3 separate regions of the Homo sapiens genome follow, and regions 2 and 3 are each linked to region 1. The links come from fine-mapping of genetic effects on gene expression. A gene starts in region 1. Each other region holds a variant in brackets. All regions are shown on one strand. Distances are from middle to middle. Region 1 holds the start of FAM218A (family with sequence similarity 218 member A). Region 2 holds the start of TRIM61 (tripartite motif containing 61). Region 3 overlaps CPE (carboxypeptidase E).

The links. PIP is the estimated chance that this variant, and not a neighbour inherited with it, causes the effect.
Region 2: its variant is fine-mapped to the expression of FAM218A in whole blood (INTERVAL, PIP 0.99).
Region 3: its variant is fine-mapped to the expression of FAM218A in breast (GTEx, PIP 0.96).

What each region holds. Positions count from the first base shown.
Region 1 is chr4:164,952,501-164,960,685 of GRCh38, reverse strand. FAM218A (family with sequence similarity 218 member A) reads right to left here and starts at 3,738. Exons shown (of 1, transcript NR_160935.1): 1 at 1,555-3,738. It also overlaps a transcript of TRIM61 not described here. RefSeq lists enhancers at 3,479-3,638, 3,939-3,988.
Region 2 is chr4:164,973,849-164,982,033 of GRCh38, reverse strand. TRIM61 (tripartite motif containing 61) reads left to right here and starts at 4,377. Exons shown (of 3, transcript NM_001414904.1): 1 at 4,377-4,503; 2 at 5,209-5,346. RefSeq lists enhancers at 4,099-4,158, 4,189-4,268. The variant G/A (reference allele first, on the strand shown) is at 4,504.
Region 3 is chr4:165,398,972-165,407,156 of GRCh38, reverse strand. The region is part of intron 1 of CPE (carboxypeptidase E); the gene reads right to left. It also overlaps the pseudogene HADHAP1. Among named protein-coding and RNA genes, the nearest start is that of MIR578, 17 kb to the right of the region's middle. The variant A/G (reference allele first, on the strand shown) is at 3,345.

The sequences.
Region 1 (8,185 bases):
ACCCACCACACCCAGCTGGTAAATATTTTTATACTTGTAGATTATATTAGTTTTATAGGGAATACCCTAATATGGTATCACAAACTGGGTAGTTTACATAACAGGAAATTTTTTTTCCTTTTTTTTTTTTTGAGACAGAGTCTTACTCTGTCGCCCGGATTGGAGTGCAGTGGTGCCATCTCGGCTCACTGCAACCTCCACTCCTTGGGTTCAAGCAAATCTCCTGCCTCAGCTTCCCAAGTAGCTGGGATTACAGGAGCCTGCCACCATGCCTACCTATTTTTTTTTCTTTTTTTTGTATTTTTAATAGAGATGGAGTTTCATCATCTTGGCAAGGCTGGTCTTGAACTCCTGACCTCGTGATCCACCCGCCTCGGCCTCGAAAAGTGATGGGATTACAAGCATGAACCATCGTGTCCAGCCCATAACAGGAAATTTATTGTCTCACAGTTCTGGAGGCTGGGTCCAAATTATGAGTGTTGGCAGGATTGGTTTGTTCTGAGGGCTGTGATATAGAATTTCTTCCATGCCTCCAGGTTCTGTTGTGTTGCTGCCAATCTTTGGCATTCCTTGGCTAGTAGATGCATCACTCCAATGGCATTCCCCCGTGTTTCCTCATATAATCTTCCTCTGTGCATATCTTTGTGTCAAAATTTCATCTTTTTATAAGGACTGCAGTGATACTGGATTAAGGCCCACCCTAATGACCTCATTTTGACCAATTACCTTCTAAAGACCTAATTTCCAAATAAGGTCACATCTGAAGTACTGGAGTTAGCCCTTCAACATACTTTTTCGGGAGAACACAATTCAACCAATAGCAGAGATGAACTTGTTTCCCTTCTGCTAGGCCCGTAGTGAGGGTGTGTTTGTATTAATCGAGCCAGGAGTTAGGCAGAGTTTGAAGTTTGTTATTGCTATCGTTACCATTAATACATTAAAGACTTCACACTCCCCTAGTGATATGTCTCTTTAATTTCTCAAACTGGATTCTACTGTTATTTTTACTCAACTCCTCTTAGTGTGGTTTTGGGAGTTGGGGAAGCCTGTGTTCTCTGATGTTCTGATTGAGCATGAGTCATGGGCAAGCACTCTGAACTTTGGTCTCAGGCATGTGTGGCCTTCACAAATGTTCTTCACCCTCCTCCAGATGTAATGCTGGGCCTAGCACACATTCCCACATCTCACAGCACAAGGAAAATGACTGGCACATCTTCCAAGTCCCCTTTTTCAGGGAACTACCTGGTGATACGCTCACCAAAAGAAGGGAAGAAAACTAAGAAGGAAAACAAGGGACTCAGACAACAATAGACTTAAAACCTCTGGACATAAGACAGAAGATAAAAGATAATTCTTAGGGTAAGGGAAACATGAAAGGCCTCAGAGGACAGCTGTGCATCATATCACCAAATTTCAGTTCATGCTAAGATGACAGAGGGCTTCAGGAGATTGAGCACTATAAAGAAAATGAATATAATCAACAAATTACATGTCGAGTTTAGAAAGGAACTTTAGAGATGAGCAGATATGGGGCTGAAAGAGATAAACAGAAAATGCAGCAAGTAAGAAATCAGGCAATTTTAATCACAATAAAACAAAATTTGTGTATCAAAGAAATTATAATTATAGCACCTAAGTGGCTCAGCTGTGAACAATTATATAGTCATATGAACGTATTAATCCAATTATATTACCATATTTGGATATTTGTGGGGAAAGATAGAGTATGTGCCTGGGTGGTGCGAGAGACCTAAATTCTCAGTTTATCTAATAGAATGTTAATTTAAAATGTCTAACATTAGACATATTACAGTTATGAAGAAATAGCAAGGTCACTGGAATAAATCATGCCTCTGTTTAACAGGAATTTGGTGTAGGATGGCATGACCCAGGAGGTTTTTGTTTTTATATAAGCCTGTTTTGTTGCTGGAATGAACTAATAGCTCTCTACATAATTTTGATAAAATTCATAATGTGGGAAGCATTGAATTATTGACTGTGTAATACCATCTTTCATCTTAGAATATCAAAAGTACTTTACAATTTATTCCCATTACATCTCTGAAGAGTAGGCATTTCTAATACTGTTTTATTGATAGTTGCTAAAATAATGAAAGAAAAAAACTTTCTTCTGCTTGTAAGTGGCAGACAATTCAGAATTGAAGAGCTCCTCTCCTAAATAATACAAAATAGCTTTCAAATAATTCATCCTTCATAATCTATTACTGTACAGGTTATAAGAGGTTAGAAATCATACCCAGTGTGAAACACAGCCTAAGTAGTTTCATAAAAATATCACTTGAAGAAAAGATTTCAGACCTGGCATTCAAGTCATAAGATTAAACCTCATCCCCTTCATTGTCCAGAACAAATCCTAACATTACTGGGTCTTACTTTTAATAGAACGATTGCCACTCTATGTAGTGTAATTACTTTGGCAAAGTTATTACATTTCTATAGCTGAAAACTAAAGCATGAATCCTATTGTGATGGCGTCTTTTTCCATCTCCTGGGAAGACAATTCTAACAAACAACTCTATTATATCTATCCAGTTTGATTTTGTCCTCTTTCTCTTCCTCCTGGTAATAACAGCCTTAATCTTTTTTGGATCATGAGTTTTTGTGGTGTCTTTCCAAATCGCACTGTATTCTATCTTTAGAGATACAAGATTATGACTTGCTGTTTCAGAATCTAGAGTCAGATCTATGTAAAATGAATTAAGAATGTTTTGTCGACCATAATGTTGTGGCAGAAGTCTAGAATCATCATCCCTTGTTAAAATGGAAAAGCTCATAAAGTTTTTGTCTTAATACCTGTTATTGATACATACCCTTATATCAGTTACTAATTATTTGAGTGAATAGTTTACTCTGCTATCTCACTTATTAGAGCTTTAAATAAGAAAATATGGTCTGAAAGTTTTGTTTTCATCTAGTGTGCGTATCATATCCTATTCTTTATATTTTCAGGTTTTCAGAACTGCATCTTATTCATTTTCCGAATAAAGCACAAAGTGCTCAAAATCAGAGTTTAATCTCTTCCTCTAATATTCGACTATCTTCGGTAGCATTCATGTATTTTTAGTTAACATAACGATTGGTTTAGTTTTGGCTTATTTAAAGCATTTTACACTTGCTGTTTCAGATGTCAGATGTCCCCTGTGAGCTTCTTCCTTGAGGCAGCCTGCTCTATAGGACAGGTGAGCCCAGCGGGAGCCAGCCCACTGCAGACCCAAACCCTCTAGTCCTTGTCACAAAAAGAGGCTGGGACCTGATGGTGGTTCTCTTCCTGACTTTTCCTGGTGGTCCTTCTGACTTGGAGTGGCCTGGCAATTTCGGTGGCGTGACAGCCGGAATGCTGCCACTAAAATTCCTCTCTGGGCACCATGAGCGGCTGACAGGGCACGCGGAGAAAACGATTCGCTTCTCCCAGGATTGGTGGAGCGACCGCTGTTGGACGAATGTGGTCGTCCCTGGATGTCTGAGCAAAGAGACACTGCCATGGCGGCCGCCGGTCAGCGTATAAGGTCTGTTAGGGAGACCCGAAGCCCTGCACCAGGAACGCAGTTTGGCTCGCCCAGCCCACCCTGCAGGGCTGGCTCTCCAGGCGCTGGGTCCGGGGAGAAGAGGACAGCTGCCCCGCCGCACCGCGCATCCTTCCATCCACTGTGGTACATGGCGCTGCCCCGGTCTCCAACGTCGCGCCACACCTTCACGGTCTCACCCGGAAGTCGAAGCCCAGAGACGGTGCCGGCCGCACCCAATCACTGCTCTGCCGCTCCGACTTCCGCTACGGACTCGCCCAGCCTCCTGGGAGAAACGCTGCAGTGCTTGGGGTGCTGAAGCCCCTTGAGAGCCTTGTGTTCTGTGAGAAAGTTGCATTCTGAAGGAACCTCAGCTGTTTGCTTTGCTCTTCTGCCACCCAACCCTACCTGTGCCAGACTGAGGGCTCTCCCTGCCCCGCCTTAACAGAAGAGAATTCCAGTTGCTGTTTTAATTTATTGAATCTTATTTATAACTGGTTGGAGAAAAATATGGTTATAATTCCCACTGAACAGCTTATTAAAAGTTACAGTAACACTATGATAATTGAGATATTGTCTTTTAGGGAATAAATAATGAAATTATAAGATGAAATATACAGATGAAATTATAAGATGTCTGGGAATTTACTCCATTGGCAGGAGAAGTTGCTGGGGTTATAAAGATTGTTAATTCAAATGATAGAAATTGGTTTCTTTTTATGTGTACGTTCTTCATAATGTTCTCTCTACTATTATGGATGTATGAAATACTCCACAATTTAAAAGCTTCCTTTTATACCCGGCATGGAAGCTCATGCCTGTAATCCCAGCACTTTGGTAGGCTGAGGTGGGCGGATCACATGAGCTCTGGAGTTTGAGACCAGCCAGGCCAACATGGTGAAACCCTGTCTGTACAAAAAATACAAAAATTAGCCGGACATGTTGGCCCGCCCCTGTGGTCCCAGCTACTCCGGAGGCTGAGGTGGGAGAATCGCTTGAACCTGGGGAGTTGAGGTTGCAGTGAGCCAGGATGGCGCCACTGCACCTCAGTCTGGACGACAGAACGAGAGCTTGTCTCAAAAAAATAAATAAACGAAAGATTTATTTCAAAAGGCTAATCATGTTTCAGCGTTATCAATGCCTCGTTCCAGAAAAGCTCATTTCTCTTACTCTTTTCTTTGAGCCGCCTCCCCGTTTTCAGTCCGCCTCAGGGCTCTCAGATTCTGTCTCCTTTGTCTTCCTCCTCACAGTTGTCCCTAATCTTAATCGATTTTCCATCCTCTACCAATTTCCTGTCTACACCCTCTTTAATCTCATAAAACTGCCAAATTAGTTTAAATCGGGATTGAGGAAAGAGCGAGACTAGGCATTGTGCTTCCATCTGGGTGTGTGTGTCTTGTGTGTGGATCCCAGGCCTGGTCTCAGATTACCTGAGTCATCTGGGGCTGGTCCCTGATATCCTCTCTTCATCCTTTTGTGGTCACATGAAGACAAGGAAAATCAACCTCAATTTCCCTTTAAGTTTTCTGTAAATATAAACACCAATAAAGACATATCTTCTGGAAAACTTGTTTTTTTTTTTTTTTTTTTTTTGAGACTGAATCTCTCTTAGTCACCCAGGCTGGACTGCAGTGGCAAGTTCGTAGCTCACTGTAGCCTCAAACTCTTGACCTCAAGCAATCTTCCTGCCTGGGCCTCCCACACTACTCGGGTTGCAGTCTTGAGCCATTGAGCTCAGCCTGGAAAAAATTTTTTAAAACATAGGATTTGGTGTGGCACAGAACTCAATATATTCCAAGAATGGTTTGTGTTTCTGATTCTTCTGTTGACTGTTTAATGGTAGATATGCTGATTATGCAGAACAGTTCAGACATAATTAGATGTAATTAGGGCAAACCAGCATGAGGCCCCTTATGAGAAGTCCAAATCTGTGATTGTCATACAACATACAAAAGAACTGTCTCATATACGATGTCAGAGTAAAGAGTGAACCAAATAGGTTATGTGTAGGACATGTGTATACTACTATAATACCATAATAATTTTTTTTTTTTTTTTTTTTGAGATGGAGTCTCCTTCTGTCACCAGGCTGGAGTGCAGTTGCACGATCTCGGCTCACTTCAACCTCCGCCTCCCGGGATCAAGCGATTCTTCTGCCTCTGGCTCCTGAGTAGCTGGGACTACAGGTGCCCTCCACCATGCCCAGCTAACTTCTGTATTTCTAGTAGAGACAGGGTTTCATCATGTTGGCCAGATGGTCTCGATCTCTTGACCTTGTGATCTGCCTGCCTTGGCCTCCCAAAGTGCTGGGATTACAGGCATGAGCCACTGTGCTGGGCCAATAAAATTTTAAGTAAATATAAAACAGCATATTTATATTTTATTTTTTGTAGAGATGGTTGCCCAGGCTGGTCTGGAACTCCTGACCTCAAGCGATCTTCCTGCCTTGACCTCCCAAAGTGCTGGGATTATAGCCATGCTGCCAACCATGTGTAGGGTATGTATATGTTCCTATACCATAATAAAATTTTAATTACATTTGTAAGGTATGTAATTATATGTATTTCTGTATAATATGTACATATAAATATGCTAATTAATACAAGAACATATTGAATTATAATCAATATATATAATTTTAGATGTATATTGGAATGTTTATCTTTCTAATAATACAAAACTGATGGTTAAAAAATAAAATGCACAAACTCCCCAAGGTTCCTTCCTATGTGGCTACTTTCCCCAGCTTAGGTCCAGCCAAAGGCTGCACGCCCTTTACTGAGTGTAGCTCACCTGTGCCTCCTGGTGCAATCCTCACTCAGATATTCTGCTCCCAGTAGAGGGTTAGTGTAGGGTGCGGAGCCTACCTGTATTCACTTGTCAGCAGTTCACTGGGGATTGTCAGCTTTTTCCATCCTTGCAGAGCTGTTTCTTCGTCGATCCAGGTCAGAAGACGCAACACAGTCCCTACTTCTTGTTCACCAAAATGGTGACCTCAGAACGAATTCAGTCTTAAACCCTGTAGGGAGTTTTTTTTTCCTTATGCAGTCAGCATGGGGGAAGTGACAGGTCCCAGAGGGCAGTTCTCTCTTGTTCTCTGATTGCTCCTGCAGGGTCCTGGGTTGGTGAAGGGGACAGGGGTAGGGACCTGCAGAATGGTTGTGATGGGGTGGGAGCTGCGGAAGTAACACATCATGCACTGAGTGGAGCATAAGGGCAAGTGCTGGGTTTTTTTGTTTCACTTTTTTTTGGACACAGGATGTTGCTCTGTCACCCTGTTGTGCAGTGATGCAGTCATGGTTCACTGTAACCTGGAACTCCTGGGCTCAAGCAATCCTCCAGCCTCAACCTTCCAAATAGCTAGGACTGCAGGCACACATCACCATGCCCAGCTAATTTTTAAAAATTATTCTTTTTGAAGAAACGGTGTCTCACTATGTAGGCCAGGCTAGTTTGGAACTCCTGGCCTTATCCTCCTTTCTTGACCTCCCAAAGTGCTGGCATTACAGCCATGGCTCCCAGCCAGTCTTTTGTTATTCATAATGAGCCCCTTTGGATCAACTGGATTTATGCTAATGAGGTGGGTTGGGTTGGGGCCCCAGGGTAGCCTCAGGATAGGGCTACTCACAGAAGACCAAGTGATTAGAACTTTCAGTAGGATGGTGGGGGGACCTGGAAAATAAACTTTATACAAATTCTTGAAGAAAGTAATATGAGGAGCTTTGAGATTTGTGAACACCTTGAGGTGCGGGGAGGGTGGACCACCCAGAGAGGGAATGAAACTATATTTAAATATTAAATGTGATACCTATACTGCACTTACACTTTTAAAATCGTTCTTTTAGTGATTTATTTTAAGATATAGATAAAATGATATGATGTATGAATACTGCATTAAAATGATTTGGGGAAGGTAGAGCATGATCTTGATAAAATAAAATTGACCATAATAATTATTGAAATTGTGTAATGGATCTATGGGGGTTGGGGTGATCTATTGTACAATTATGTCTCTCTTTCTGCATGTTGGGACTTTTCCATAATATCCCAATAATTAAACTGAGATCATACAGCATCCTAATTATTGTTGTGTCAACCCCACATGGGAAAAATTGAACACCCATCAAATTTAGTCCAGATATAAAGACTGATTATGCCACACACCCACACACACACTAGAAGGATAGGAACAGGTTTGTTTCTCACATGCTGGGGTGTTGAAGGAGAGCAGCACAGGCCTGTAGGTGGTCTGTAAATGGACTGTGAGAGCAGAGAAAGAAGACGGGCTTGGTGTTTTTCTTCAGGTTAAGGTGTGGGCAGGGTGAGGGATCACTCATTCACAATGAAAGTTGCCTGGTTTGAATCTCTTTCCTGCCCTGAAGGAGGGAGCACCTGGGCTTTCTTGGCAGGTTGCCCAAATGTGCGGCCAAAGAAAAAAATGGAGGAGTGACGATTAAAAGTTATCAAGGGTGAAAAACTGTAAAAATGGATTTGAACTATTTTGTAGGATTCCCCCACACCCTGATGTTTAACTGTTGATTAGATGCACCATGTTTCATTTCATTGAATTTGAACTTGTTTGAGTAAGCCTTTATGGTGCTTAATGAAGCTGACAGCTTAATCTAGTAAGGGAAGTTACAATTCCATTGAATGCCTTCTTC
Region 2 (8,185 bases), 21 kb before region 1:
AAACTACCTGTAAAAAGTCTGTTATGCGTCCTTACAGGCCTTTACATATTTTTATGGACAGGAAGAGGGAGAGTAGTCTGCTAAATCCAGATGGAATAGACATAGAGCAAAGCTACAAAGCATCTTAGAATGTAACAGGCATGAAAAATATTCTTTAGCTGAAAAACTAGATCACTGATAAACTTGGAACAGTCTCAGTGGAGGAGTAAAGATGAAAGCCCGATTGCTTCTGAACTCTTCTTTTTTTTTTTTTTTTTTTGAGACGACGGAGTTTCACTCTGTCGCCAAGGCTGGAGTGCAGTGGCACAGTGTCAGCTCACTGCAACCTCTGTCTCCTGGGTTCAAGCAATTCTCCTGCCTCACCCTCCTGAGTAGCTGGGATTACAGGAGCCCACCACCATGTCTGGCCAGTTTTTATATTTTTAGTAGACATGGGGTTTCACCATGTTGGCCGGGCTGGTCTCAAACTCCTGACCTCAGATGATCCACCCACCTCGGCCACCCAAAGTGCTGGGATTACAGGCATGAGCCACCGCACCCAGCCCTGAACTCTTGTTGTAGGGAAGAACAAAATTCTTAGGGCAACTGGTCTAGAAGAGTAATTACATCACATCTCTTTAGGTTAATTAGCATCTAGCAGGTGGGCCCCATCCAGTTAAATTATGCTGTATCCTATGAGGTATAGTCAGCCTTGCAGGATTCAGTGCCATATTGATGGGGTTCCCATATTAAGTATTTATTTGTTTATTTATTTATTTATTCACTTACTCATTTATTTTTGGGACAGAGTCTCGCTCTGTCGCCCAGGCTGGAGTGCAGTGGCGCCATCTTGGTTCACTGCAACCTCTGCCTCCCAGGTTTAAGCAATTCTCTTGCTTCAGCCTCCTGAATAGCTGGTATTACAGGCGCCCATCACCAGGCCTAGCTAATTTTTGTATTTTTAGTAGAGACAGAGTTTCACCATGTTGGCCAGGCTGGTCTCGAACTTCAGACCTCAAGTAATCACCTGCCTCGGCCTCTCAAAGTTTTGGGACTATAGTCGTTGAGCCACCATGCCTGGTCTCTTAAGTTATTTTTCTTTTTTAAAATTTTACTTTAAGTTCCGGGATACATGTGCAGAATGTGCAGGTTTGTTACATAGGTATACATGTGCCATGGTGGTCTGCTGCACCTATCAACCTGTTATCTAGGTTTTAAGCCCCGCATGCATTAGGTATTTGTCCTAATACTCTCGTCCCCTTGCCCTCCCACCCCCCAACAGGCCCTCATGTTTTGTTGCTCCCTGTGTCCATGTGTTCTCATTGTTCAACTGCCACTTTTGAGTAAGAACATGAGGTGTTTGATTTTCTGTTTCTGTGTTAATTTGCTGAGAATGATGGCTTTCAGCTTCAACTATGTCCCTGCAAAGTACTATGTCCCTCAACTATTTCCCTCATTTTTTTATGGCTGCAGAATATTCCATGGTGTATGTGTTCCACATTTTCATTTTTTTTTTTCTTTTTGAGTTGAAGTCTCGCTCTTGTCCTCCAGGCTTGAGTGCAATGGCGCCATCTCGGCTCACTACAACCTCCAGCTCCCGGGTTCAAGCGACTCTCCTGCCACAGCCTCCCGTGTAGCTGGGATTACAGGTGCTTGCCACCATGCCCGGCTAATTTTTGTATTTTTAGTAGAGACAGGGTTTCACCATGTTGGCCAGGCTGGTCTCGAACTCCTGACCTCAGGTGATCCACCTGCCTCAGCCTCCCAAAGTGCTGGGATTACAGGCGTCAGCCACCACGCCCGGCTATGTTCACATTTTCTTTATCCATTCTATCACTGATGGGCATTTGGATTGGTTCCAAATCTTTGTTATTGTAAATAGTGCTGCAATAAACATACGTGTGCATGTGTCTTTATAGTAGAATGATTTATAGTCCTTTGGGTATCTTAAATAATTTTTTTTTTGGTGACAAAGTCTCCCTCTGTCGCCCAGACGGGAGTGCAGTGGCGCGATCTCGGCCCACTACAACTTCTGCCTCACGGGTTCAAGCAGTTCCTCCCCTGAGTAGCTGGGATTACAGGCAGGCGCCACCACGCCGGCTAATTTTTGTATTTTTAGTAGAGATGGGGTTTCACCATGTTGGTCAGGCTGGTCTCGAACTCCTGACCTTGTTATCCGCCCACCTCGGCCTCCCAAAGTGCTGGGATTACAAGCGTGATTTTTAATGCCACGTACTGTGACAGGGAAAGAAACCACCCTGCTGGCTGCATAGTTTGTTTAAATAGCATAATATACAGGGTGGGTGCAGTGGCTCACACCTTTAAGTAATCCCAGCATTTTGGGAGCCCGAGGCGGGTGGATCGCTTAAGCCCAGGAGTTTGAGATCAGCCGGGCCAACACAGTGAAACCCCCGTCTGTACTGAAAGCACAAAAACTTAGCCGGGCGTGGGTGGCACGCGCCTGTAATCCCAGCTACTCTGTAGGCTGAGGCAGGAGAACTGTTTGAACCAGGGAGGCTGAACCCGCGAGGCGGAGCTTGCAGTGAGCCAAAATGGCGCCATTGTACTCCAGCCTGGGCGAAAATAACAAATAAATACCATGCACTCACCTCACTGCAAAGTAATATGGGGGAAGCTGCTGCCACTGGTATTTCTTTTCCTTTCTTTTTCAGGAGACTCTGGAATTTCAAAAGGTTTACGAACAAGGACTTTGCTTTATCGGTTGATTTGTCTAGGTCACACCTCTATTCAACTGTCCACCATACACCCTTTCTAGGATATATTAAAGGCATCGACGGGTCTTTATTCCACAATTCAAATCTTAGTACTTCATGTTTAAAATGCTTCACTGGCTTTTCTTTGCATTTGATAAAAACCAATATCCTCAATTTTGCCTAAAGGGCCTTGCAGCATTCATTCTCGCCTATCTCATCAGCCTCACAAAGCCATTTTCCATATTTTATACTTCTTGCAATTTCCCACGTTGTAGTGCCAACCAAATGACCTCTTTCAGTTCCTTTTGTACCAAGTTTTTAAAAATTATCATCTCTAGGCAGGGCGCGGTGGCTCACGCCTGTACTCCTAGCACTTTGGGAGGCCGAGGCGGGCGGATCACGAGGTCAGGAAATCGACACCATCCTGGCTAACACGGTGAAACCCCGTCTCCACTAAAAATACAAAAAATTAGCTGGGCGTGGTGGCAGGCACCTGTAGTCCCAGCTACTCTGGAGGCTGAGGCAGGAGAATGGCGTGAACCCGGGAGGCGGAGCTTGCAGTGAGCCGAGATCACGCAACTGCACTCCAGCCTGGGCCACAGAGCGAGACTCCGTCTCAAAAAAAAAATAAAAATAAAAATAAAATTATCATTTCTGGCTGGGTGAGGTGGCTCACGCCTGTAATCCTGGCACTTTTGGGAGGCCGAGGCGGGCGGATTGCCTGATCTCAGGAGTTCGAATCCAGCCTGGGCAACACGATGAAACCCCGTCTCTACTAAAAATACAACAACAAAAAATTAGCCAGGCGTGGCGGCGTGCGCCTATAGACCCAGCTACTCGGGAGACAGAGGCAGGAGAATTGCTTGAAACTGGGAGGCAGAGGTTGCAGAGAGCCAAGATCGCGCCACTGCACTCCAGCCTGGGCGAAAGAGAGATTCCGTCTCTTATTAAAAGAAAAAAAAATCATTTCTAAAATATTTTGTAGACGCAGGGTCTGGCAATGTTACCTAGGCTTGTCCTGAACTCCTGGCCTCAAGCGATCCTCCCACCTCTGCCTCTGAAAGTGCTTGGATTACAGGTGTGAGCCACTATGCCCGGCCTGTACTAAATTCTTTAAAGTTGAGAGGCTCCACATTGGCTCTTCTTCCAGCCTTGAAGACTTTGACCGTGGAATTGATCCAACGAATGCCTCTTCATCCCTCAAATTCCGCCTGAAATGTCACTTCCTCAGGTAAACCTGAGTTCATAGGGTAGGGCACAATCCCACAGGGTGGGAGAGATCCACCCACTCACCCACTGAGATGCAAACTAATCCAAAGGGGCTTCTATTCCTCTTTCAAGCATAGGGAGTGCTCAACGACTCCACCCTGCGACCCCAGGCTACGGGAAGCAGTTGACCCTGCAAAGCTCTCCACTCCCTCACCATCTGGGAGGGGACGCTGTGCTGGTGAAGCTTTTAAAACCAACTTGCAGACTTACTTGGACCCTCAAGTTTACTCATATACATAAAAAGTGATAAGAATCCGAAAAGACAGCCAGGGGAATTAAATGCCAGTTGGGGCCAACGGGGCCCTGATCACGGAAGAGGGCGCCCCCAGCTCTCAATCTTCACACAATCCCTGCACCCAGGGTCACAGAGCATGCGCAGGTCCTTCCCGCCCACTTCCGGGGCAACTGCCAACCACCGCGCAGGCTGAGCCCCAGGCAGGAAGCAGCCCACTTGGTGGGGTTGGGGTATGAGTCCTTCCTCGCGGGGGCTCGGTGGGTCCTGAGTATTCTTTGGCCGGATTTGCTGATCCGTCTGCTCCAG[G/A]TGAGCTGGGAAGGCCGCAGGAAAGGCCCAGAAGGGCCTCGCCAGGAGGCTTAACTGGACAGGGGCTTCTTGAACATTCTCTGTGCCTAAACCTCCGGGTCGCTGCCTGCCCACGACTGGATCTCCTTAGTGTCTGGCGTAGCTCTTGTGAAAAATTCAGGATTGTAGAGTTAGAATGGGGGTGTTGAGCCTGTATCAATTAAGCTTTAAATGTTATGATCTGAATTAGGGTTTATGAAGTGGCTATGTTATCTTCAAAGAGTTAATGTACGTGTTTGGGAGTGGGGGTTGGGGAGTTAAGGGAGCGAAGTGGTAGCTGCCAGTTGAGAACCCACCAGCCTACGTCGTCTGCACCCTCGACCTATGTAAGCATCCTGTAATCCTCACAAGGGTCTTACAGGTACGAATTATCATTTCAACTTTGTAGATGAGGCGCTTTAGGTGCAGGCATGTTAAGAATCAGCCAGTATGATGATGGTTGAAACTGAGAGCTTGGAATCTACCACAGGTTTTATTTATTCCTCAAACAAGCTAGAGACGTATTGCCACCAAGAAGCTTGCTGCCTGGTGAGGGGTTTTTACAGTTAGGTAAAGAATTGCAGAGTAGCTGTAAAATCACATAACTGTGATATGTGACATGATGGGAGCTAGGCAAAAAACTTGGACTAGATCTTAATGGATCTTTTTGCTTTGTTTTCCTTAAAGCATAGGTTCACAAAGTACAGTCCGCAGGCCAGCAGCATCATCTGGGAACTTAGGAAAAAACCAGCCCTACTGAGTCAGAAACTGGGGATGTGGCCCAGGCAATCTTTTACCAAGACCTCCAGGTGATTATAATGCAAGGTAAGATTTGAGAATTGCTTCCATAAAGTAATAAAGGACCAGTGGAATGTTTTCAGTTGAAATATGAAAGGATTCTGTTTGTATTTGAAAAGGTCAGTTTAGCTACAGACTTCAGAAATTGGAGGCACCATTGTGTATCTAGGAGAGAGACATAAGTGGTTTAAACTAGGGTGGTGACTGTGCCTACAGAGCTGTTCTGTTCACTTAATGTCCTGATTTTAAATAGTAGAGAAGACTGCTTTGGGTGTATGCTTGGGGAAAGGAGGGCACAATGATACCTGGAGTGAGTCCTCTTGTGTCCTTTATGAAGGGGTGGCCTGCCCCTCCACACCTGTGGGTATTTCTAGTCGGGTGGGACGAGAGACTGAGAAAAGAAATAAGACAGAGACAAAGTATAGAGAAACAACAGTGGGCCCAGGGGACCGGCGCTCAGCATACCAAGGACCTGCACCGGCACCGGCCTCTGAGTTCCCTCAGTTTTTATTGATTATTATTTTCATTATTTCAGCAAAAAGGAATGTAGTAGGAGAGCAGGGTTATAATAAGGAGAAGGTCAGCAACAAACATGTGAGCAATAGAATCTATGTCATAATTAAGTTCAAGGGAAAGTACTATGACTGGACGTGCACGTAAGCCAGATTTATGTTTCTCTCCACCCAAACATCTCAGCGGAGTAAAGAATAACAAGTCAGCATTACTGCAAACATGTCTCGCCTCCCACCATAGGGCGGTTTTTCTCCTATTTCAGAATTGAACAAAGGTACAATCAGGTTTTATACCAAGACATTCAGTTCCCAGGGGCAGGCAGCAGACCGTGGCCTTCCTCCATCTCAACTGCAAGAGGCTTTCCTCTTTTACTAATTCACCTCAGCACAGACCCTTTACGGGTGTCAGGCTGGGGACAGTCAGGTCTTTCTCATCCCACGAGGCCATATTTCAGACTATCACATGGGGAGAAACCTTGGACAATACCCCGCTTTCAAGGGCAGAGGTCCCTGTGGCTTTCCGCAGTGCATTGTGCCCCTGGTTTATTGAGACTAGAGAATGGCGATGACTTTTACCAAGCATACTGCTTGTAAACATTTTGTTAACAAGGCACGTCCTGCACAGCCCTAGATCCCTTAAACCTTGATTTTATACAACACATGTTTTTGTGAGCTCCAGGTTGAGTCAAAGTGGCTGGGGCAAAGCTACAAATTAACAACATCTCAGCAAAGCAATTGTTTAAAGTACAGGTCTTTTTCAAAATAGAGTCTCTTACGTCTTCCCTTTCTGCATAGACACACAGTGACAGTCTGATCTCTTTCTTTTCCCTGCACTTTGCACTGTGCTAGAGTCCTTTTTTGTATATGTTTTCTTAAAAGTACATTTTTTCTTCTGATTTTACCATTTTTTGCAATGATGCTCTGCAGTTTACTAACTATGTGACATTGGGCAAGATTCTTTTTTTTTTTTTTAAGATGGAGTTTTCCTCTTTTCACCCAGGCTGGAGTGCAATGGCGCCATCTCAGCTCACTGCAACCTCTGCCCCCTGGTTTGAGCCATTCTCCTGCCTTAGCTTCCCAAGTAGCTGGGACTACAGGCGCGCCACCATGCCCGGCTAATTTTTGCATTTTTAGTAGAGACAGGGTTTCACCATGTTGTCCAGGCTGGTCTCGAACACTTGACCTAAGGTAATCTGCCTGCCTTGGCCTCCCAAAGTGCTGGGATTACAAGTGTGAGCCACCGTGCGTGGCTGGGCAAGATTCTTAAAACTTTTTCAGGCTCAATTTTTCCAATCTCTGAGCACCCTATGCAACCTCACTCCCATTCCCATGCACTTTCTAACTTTCTTGTTCTGCTCAACAGTACCCATTTGAAAGTATTAAGCAAGTATTGGGAGTCACCATAGCCACGCTTAGTGTGGGCAGGTGGGAAGAGTGGTTTGTAAGAGACAGTATTCTTTTTATTTCTTTTCTTTCTTTTCCTTTTGTAGAGATGGGATTTTGCCATGTTGCTCAGGCTGGTCTTGAACTCTTGGGCTCAAGCGATCCACCCAGCTTGGCCTCCCAAAGTTCTGGGATTACAGCCCTGAAGCCACGACTCCCGGCCATTATTCTATGTTTTCTGTAGTGTTGTGTTAGAATTTTTCACAAGTTAAATGTACTCTCATCCCTGGATATACAATATACACAGGGCATTGGTTCCAGGGCACCCGAAGATACCAAAATCCATGAATGCTCAAGACCAGTGGATGCAGGTTCTGCATCCCAGGAATACTGTATTTTCGATTCTATCTGAAGTTAATTGTGTTAGTGGATGCTGAACTTGCCAATATGGAGGGCTATTTAAAATAAAGGATGTATTTTAAAATTCTAAAACTTCTGTCTTACTCCAAAATTAGTATAGGAAAATTCTCTGAAGCACACCACTACTACAGTGAGCCCTTGGAAGTTACTGCCTTTACTAATCATTTCAGGACTAGCAACCTTATAAGCCATAACAGCTTTTAGGTGAAATGTCAATGTGCTGCTTTTTTGAGACAGAGCCTTGCTCTGTTGCTCAGGCTGGAGTGCAGTGGCACGATCTCTACTCACTGCAACCTCTGCCTCCAGGGTTCAAGCAATTCTCCCGCTGCAGCCTTCCAAGTAGCTGGAATTACTGGCATGCGCCACCACTGCCAGCTAATTTTTGTATTTTCAGGAGAGACAAGGTTTTACCATGTTGGCCAGGCTGGTTCTCGAACTGCTGACCTCAAGTGATCCACTGCCTTGGCCTCCCAAAGTGCTGGGATTACAGGTGTGAGCCACCACGCCTGGCCCAATGTGTTTTATATGTAAGTAAATATAGGTTATCTCTA
Region 3 (8,185 bases), 450 kb before region 1:
CTGAAAATGTTAAACAAAGAACTGCAATATGACCCAGCAATTCCACTGCTAGGTTCATACCTAAAAGAAATAAACACACATATCCACAAAAAAAACTTGCACATAAGTGCCATAGCAGCAGCCTTGTTCATGATAGACAAAAAATTGAAACAACCCAGATGTCTATCAACTGATGAATGGAAAAACAAAATATGGTAAATCCACATAATGGAGTACTAATACATGCTACAACATGGGTGAACCTTGAAAACATTATGCTAAGTTAAAGGAGTCGGCCACAAAAGACCACATATCACACAATTTGATTTATATGAAATGTCTAGAATAAGCAAATCTACAGAGACAAAAAGTCGATTAGTCTGGTGGCCTAGAGTTGTTGGAGCAGGATTGGGAGGAATTGGGAAAATGAGGAATAACTGCTAATGGGTATGGGGTTCTTTTTGAGGTGATGATATAAATGTTCTAAAATTGTGGTGATGGCTGCACAACACTGTGGATCTACTATAAACCATTGAATTTTACTTTTAATTGTGTGAACTATTTGGTATGTGAATTCTATCTCAATAAAGCTGCAACAAAGTAATAATGACCACAAAGATTTTCAGCCATTAAATATTAAAATATTTAATAAAAGAGACAAGTTTTAGGAGGGAGCTTAAGAACAGTACAATTCTGAAATCTGAGGGAAAAACTGTGAAGTCAGTTCATTTGTATTCTCCTTGGTTATAATACATTTAAAAAGCTAATACAAAAGATAAGAATGAAATTAAAGAGAAGCGCTCTCCACTGCTGTTCTCTTCAGCTCAACATGGTGGTCTACCGGGCGATTGGCAGCCTCAGCCACTTCTCTGCCTTCAGGATCCTCCGCTCCCAAGGTTATATACGCCGCAATTTTACAGGGTCCTTTGCTTTGCTGACCAGAACCCATATTAACTATGGAGTCAAAGGGGATGTGATAGTTATTTAAATTAACTCTCCCCATTCAAAGATAAATACGCTGAATAAACAAACAGCTGCATTCAGAGTTCACGGAAGTTATGAATGAAATCTGGGCTAGTGATCAAATCAGAAGTGCCATCCTTATCTCACCAAAGCCAGGCTGCTTTATTGTAGGTGCTGATATCAACATTTTAGCCACTTGCAAGACCCCTCAAGAAGTAACACAGATACCACAAGAAGCACAGAGAACATTTGAGAAACTTGAAAAGTCCATAAAGCCTGTTGTGACTGCCATCAGTGGATCCTGCCATTTTATGCCAATATAAAATAGCAACAAAAGACAGAAAAACAGTATTCGGTGCTCCTGAAGTCTTGCTGGGGATCTTACCAGGAGCAGGAGGCACACAAAGGCTGCCCAAAATGGTGGGTGTGCCTGCTGCTTTTGACATGATGCTGACTGGCAGAAACATCCGTGCAGACAGGGCAAAGAAAATGGGACTGGTTGACCAATTGGTGGAATCTCTGCGACCAGGACTAAAACTTCCAGAGGAATGGACAATCAAATACCTAGAAGAAGTTGCAATTACTTTCCCAAAGGACTAGCTGATAAGAAGATCTCTCCAAAGAGAGACAAGGGATTAGTGGAAAAATTAACAGCGTATGCCATGACTATTCCATTTGTCAGGCAACAGATTTACAAAAAAGTGGAAGAAAAAGTGTGAAAGCGGACTAAAGGGCTTTCCCTTTATCCCACACCTCTGAAAATAATTGATGTGGTAAAGACTGGAATTGAGCAAGGGAGCGATGCTGGTTATCTCTCTGAATCTCAGAAATTCGGAGAGCTTGCAATGACCAAAGAATCAAAGGCCTTGATGGGACTCTACCATGGTCAGGTCCTGTGCAAGAAGAATACATCTGGAGCTCCACAGAAGGATGTTAAGCATCTGGCTATTCCTGGTGCAGGGATGATGGGAGCAGGCATTGCCCAAGTCTCCGTGGATAAGGGGCGAAAGACTATACTTAAAGATGCCACACTCACTGGGTTAGGCTGAGGACAGCAACAAGTGTTCAAAGGATTGAATGACAAAGTAAAGAAGAAAGCTCTAACGTCATTTGAAAGGGATTCCATCTTCAGCAACTTGACTGGGAAGCTTGATTACCAAGGTTTTGAAAGACAGACATGGTGATGGATGCTGTCCATCCATCACAACTTCCTTAGTTTTAAGCACAGAGTGCTAAAGGAAGTAGAAGCAGTGATTCCAGATCACTACGTCTTTGCTAGTAACACATCTCCTCTCCCAGTCAGTGAAATCGCTGCTGTCAGCAAAAGACCTGAGAAGGTGATTGGCAGGCACTACTTCTCTCCCGCAGACAAGATGCAGCTGCTGGAGATGATCACAACCAAGAAGACTTCCAAAGACACCAGTGCTTCAACTGTAGCAATCGGTCTCAAGCAGGGGAAGGTCATCATTGTGGTTAAGGATGGACCTGGCTTCTATACTACCAGGTGTCTTGCACCCATGATGTCTGAAGTCATCTGAATCCTCCAGGAAGGAGTTGACCCAAAGAAGCTGGATTCCCTGACCACAAGCCTTGGCCTTCCTGTGGGTGCCGCCACACTGGTGGATGAAGTTGGCGTGGATGTAGCGAAACATGTGGCCAAAGATCTGGGCAAAGCCTTTGGGGAGCAGTTTGGAGGTGGAAACCCAGAACTACTGACATAGATGGTGTCCAAGGGCTTCCTAGGTCGCCAGTCTGGGAAGGGCTTTTCCATCTATCAGGAGAGTGTGAAGAATAAGAATTTGAATTCTGACATGAACGGTATTTTAGCAAGTCTGAAGATGCCTCCTAAGTCTGAAGTCTCCTCAGATGAAGACATCCAGTTCCGCCTGCTGACAAGATTTGTGAATGAGGCAGTCACGTGCCCGCAAGAGGGGATCTTGGCCACACCTGCAGAGGGAGACATTGGAGCCGTCTTCGGGCTCAGCTTCCCACCTTGTCTTGGAGGGCCTTTCTGCTTTGTGGATCTGTATGAAGCCCAGAAGATAGTGGACCGGCTCAAGAAGTATGAGGCTGCCTATGGAAAAGAGTTCACCCCAAGCCAGCTGCTAGCTGACCACACTAACAGCCCTAACAAGAAGTTTCATCAGTGAGCAGGCCTCATGCCTCACTCAGTCAGTGCACTAACCCCAGCTGCCGGCAGTGCTGGTTCTCCAACAGAGTGGCATCTAGATTTATCAGAGTAACGAGAAGGAAGACAAACTCCGGCATTGGGTTTGCTCCCTGATTAAAGTGCCTTCAGCCAAGATCATCTCCCCCTCCTGGTGAAATCTGACTGTGAATTAGAGTTTGCGCTATTGGAAGGTGGAACCCACTGTGCTCATTGTATAAGCCCTGAGGCCTAG[A/G]GTGGCAGCCAAGAGCCATCTGGAGCCATCTCTTTGCCTGTTCCTGTCAGGAGGCCAGGGTGGCCAGGGGTGGTGAGGGCAATTCTGCACCCAGACAAACACATAACAATAAAAACCAAACTCTGTAAAAAAAAAAAAAAAAAGAATGAAATTAAAAACATGAATTACAAGAGGCTTTCAACATCCTCTTTTCATGTTGTTAGCAAGCCAGAAAACACATTCCCCATGGCATATGTTACAATTTAAATTTCATTCAAAAATTAAATCATTGTCACATTAATAGTGGTAGTAGGATTTTAGAGCTGGGGCCCCAATGATTATTTATTCCAACTTCCAGATTTTACAAAAATAGACTGCTCTAACATTTTCCATACCACTCCACACTGCTTCCCCATCAGTGTGCAGACATTAATTTTTACTTAATGCAATTCTAATAAACTGTTTTCTGGAACATGTGTTTCATGGCCTCAAGAATATGATTTTTTTTTTAATTTCTTACACTGTTTTCTTTTCACATTTAGTTGACATGAGCCTTTCCTGGTTTCAATGACAGGTGGTGATGGTTTCCTTTATGATACACACATCATAAAACAGTCGCCTTCAGCTTTTGTTTTTTAATAGCTTGCTTACATAAGTTTTACAGAGCTATGAAAGAATCAAATAGCAATCAAAATATTCTTCATAATCACCGTTAATTTCTAGTTGATTCCCAGTGTTAACTTTTTCAATCTGAGTTCAAATTTGGTGTGCCTGCATTTTAGTTCAGGATCAGATATTTCCCAGTGTTCGATTGTTTCAAATCCAGAAAAACAGAAGAAGAGTCTGGCATTTTACATTCCAGATTTCAAAAGAACAATCTATTTCCAAAGAAAAAATATCTTAAAAATATTTTTTATAAACAAAGGTAGTTTTCTCATTTCTGTTTTTCCACTTGCCACATTCTTCAGGTTTTTGTATTGACTCCTCTTCGGGGGAGAGTAAGTCTTTTTGTGACATATTTGCAAGTGTATATTTTAATTTACATGGTGCATTAGGCCATTCTTGAATTACTATAAAGAAATACCGGAGACTGAGTAATTTATAAAGAAAAGAAGTTTAATTGGCTCACGGTTCTGCAGGCTGTACAAGCATGGTGCTTGCGTCTACACGGCTTCTGGGGAGGGCTCAGGGAGCTCTCACTCATGGTAGAAGCAGGAGCATGCACGTCACATGGAGAGAAAGGGAGTAAGGTGGGGGAGGTACCATACACTTAATCAGATCTCGCGAGAACTCACCAGGAGATAGTGTCAAGTCATTCAAGAAGAATCTGCCCCTGTGATCCAAACACCTCCCAACAGGCTCCGTCTCCAACACTGGGCATTACATTTCAGCATGAGATTTGGTCAGGGACAGATATCCAAACTGTATCACATGGTGTCATGTAACCGGCCAGAATCACTAGAAACACCAACATCCTTTAATACTGAAGTATGCATCTCAACAATTCTGTGTAACTATGAGAATAATAAAGGTTACAAATGGGACCAGTCATTTATGAAATTCTTTCAAAGATCTGAAGAGGTAAATGATCATCTAAGCAAACTCTGAGAGAATCAGGCTGAAAATGTTGGCCACTATTATTATTAGCACATTTTCCTTCTCTTTCACAAATAAATAGGTACAAAACAGTAGTGGCTTCTTGATCCATAAAGAAGCTTTATTACATTTTTATTAAATATATATTTTTGATGGAAATATCTCACAACCTTCTGAAGAAAGAACTGATATAAAAAATAAAATAATCTGTCCATTTATCACCTTTCCCTAATTATCCTTTCCTCTTCATTCCATTGTCACCACACCTTTCCAGGTCCTCATCAAATTATGCCAGTATTACTCTATCAGCCTTTTGCCCAGCCTCCCGACCCCTACTTTAAACACATCTGGCTTAATATTAAAATAACTAATTTTATTACAACACCACTTTCCACAGAATCATTCTATGCTCACAAGACTGCAGAAGCCCCTGTAACCCACCATTGTGTCTAAATTCCTCTGTCCAGCTTCCAGGGCCTCATATATTGTGGCATCACTCAATCTTTCCAAAAGTATTTCATGTTCCCCCACACATAAACCCTCCTCCACTCAGGAAGGCAGATGTTCCACAAGACAAGAAATAATGAGAGGAGAATACAGTTTGGGAAATAATAATAATTTCTATTATTCATTAAGTGTATGTTGTGTGCCATTAACTGTGCTCAGCACATTACATGTGCTATTTCATTTTACCCGCACATAAATCTTACGTGACAGGTTTCATGATTTTACAGAGTGGAAGCTGAGCCACATAAAGACTTTCTTCTTTAAGGCCATTAAGCTATTAAACGGCAGACCTGGCAGCCTTATGTCTCACTCCAATGCTCAAGTTCTTATCCACATGTTGACTATCACTTATAGTAAAAGTGTACTAGGCAGGTGGATGTGCAAATCCAAAGCTCACTGGGGAGAAACAAGGGTTATATTTTTCCTTCACCGGCTTCTAGTTAACTGCACCTGTTGTTATGAGTGAGCCTGTCTATGGAAAAGGCGTGTAACGAAGAGAAGAAACCAAGAACAGAACTCTAAGCAATGGCACCACTTACAGGGTGTACAGAAGAGAAGGCCGCAGAAAAGACTGAGAAGGTGTCAGGAGAACCAGAAGAGTTATCCAGTACAAATCAAAGAAGTGGGGTTTCAAGTCACACTAAAGGGGAGTAGTCAGCTGTGTAAAGAAAAAAAAAATCAAATAAGGTCAAGTAAGATAAAGATTGAAAACGGCTCATTAGAACTGGTGATGAAGAGCTGGGATAACTCATAATTTATCATCCAAACTAGGACAGTTTTGAGGGTGAAAGAGGGCTCTATTAACAAATACCCCAGGAACACTGAATATGTTGGAAACAAAGACATAAGGTCACCCTATTAAGAAGTCAGTAGTGGCCCTTTGTGAGAACCATATGAAGAGAGTAATGCAGTGACTGCCACAATGATATGAGTTCAGGAATGAATGTGTGTTGAAAATAGTATGTAATCTTTCAAAAAACTTAGTTTATTCCTTCTTTACTCCCACTGCTTCACTTGACTAGCCTTTAAAAAAGAAAGGCTTGGTTTGATGAATGGGTGAGAGAAAAGGTGAGTGTTAGAGGTGAAACTGCCCTTCACTTACTCCTTATCCATTTGTTTGACTTCTTCCTCTTGACTCTACTGAAACTACTTCCCCAAATGTCCCCAGCGACTTCCAACCAGTGCTGGGAGTGAGTGACCTTTACTGTATCCTCTGCTTCATTAACTTCCACAGCACTGGGCATCGTCATATGCCCCCAGTCCTATCTTGAGACTACAGCTCTGAATCATACCTACTGCCTCTTTCTTTGACTACATCTCTCTGCTCTCTTCTTGCTCATTTAATCTTAAAAATGTTGGTGTGTTCTAAGTTTCTGCCTGATACACTTTCTCTCCTTTGCCTATTCTCCCTCCCTCAGTCATCTCATCCATAATCACCATTTTCACCCTCACCAGTCATGCAAGTGATTCCTAAATCTTTTCCTCTGTCCTCAAATTCTGCTATGAAATGAATTTCATTTCAAACTGCTGGCCATATATCTCTCTCCAGGTGGTGGGTCCACAACACCTCCCTAAATATGTCAAAAGCATACAATATCTTTTTCTTAAATTAGCAATGCACAAGTGATCTATTTCTGTTAACTCCCAAACAAATGAAGTCTAAATCCTCAGTCTAGCATTTAAGGATATTCATGATATGGCCAAAGACCTACTTGTAAAGATTTTGCTTCCTCTACATGTACAGTAAGGTCTAAGCACAAAGTGCTCTGTTATTATCCTCTGAACATTATCTTGGAACCCACTCTTAGAGAGGCTGGGATTATAACACTGATGATTGCTTCTGTTTCTCCTAGAATTCTCTTCTCTCCTCTACACTGGTCAAGATTAAGCCAATCAGAAGTCTCGGTGAGTATCCTTATTAAATGTGTCCTCCATTCTTCAATCTCAAACTTCGCTTTGTATTACTCTTAAGGTACTTGTCATTTTCTATCTTATCATAACATATGCATGTGTCTTATCCTCCCTAGTATATAGGGAACTCCTTTAAAAGAGGATATGTGGCCAGGCACGGTGGCTCACACCTGTAATCCCAGCACTTTGGGAGGCCAAGGCATGTGGATCACCTGAGGTCAAGAGTTCAAAACCAGCCTGGCCAACATGGTGAAACCCCATCTCTACTAAAAATACAAAAATTAGCTGGGTGTGTTAGCGTGTGCCTGTAGTCCCAGCTACTCAGGAGGCAGGAGGCCAGGGCAGGAGAATCGCTTGAACTTGGGAGGTGGAGGTTGCAGTGAGCCGAGATCGTGCCACTGCACTCCAGCCTGGGTGACAGAGACTCTTTCTCAAAAAATAAAAAAGAGGGTATGTCTTTTCACAGATGTACAACAGGTATTTATTGTTTAGAATCAACAGTTATAATTAGTAGAATAGATGCATTTGACATCTTAATACATCTTACTTGAAAATCCATTATTTTTATCACCCTCAAAAGTAAAAGAAAAACTGACAGCTGTTTATGCTCTGATATATTAAACATCCTCAGTAAACATTATTTTAAAACTACATCTCTGGTTTATGAACATATAATGTGAGAGAACAGTTTATCAAGTAGATTAATTTTTAGGCACATCAAGATTAATATGATCATTTAGTATAGTACATTTAGGCAATTAAATTTTTATAATATAAGTAAGTACCACAATAAAACCCTTTAATGCCTACTGTCAAAGCCTAGAATAGTGAATTAATTGGTTATAATA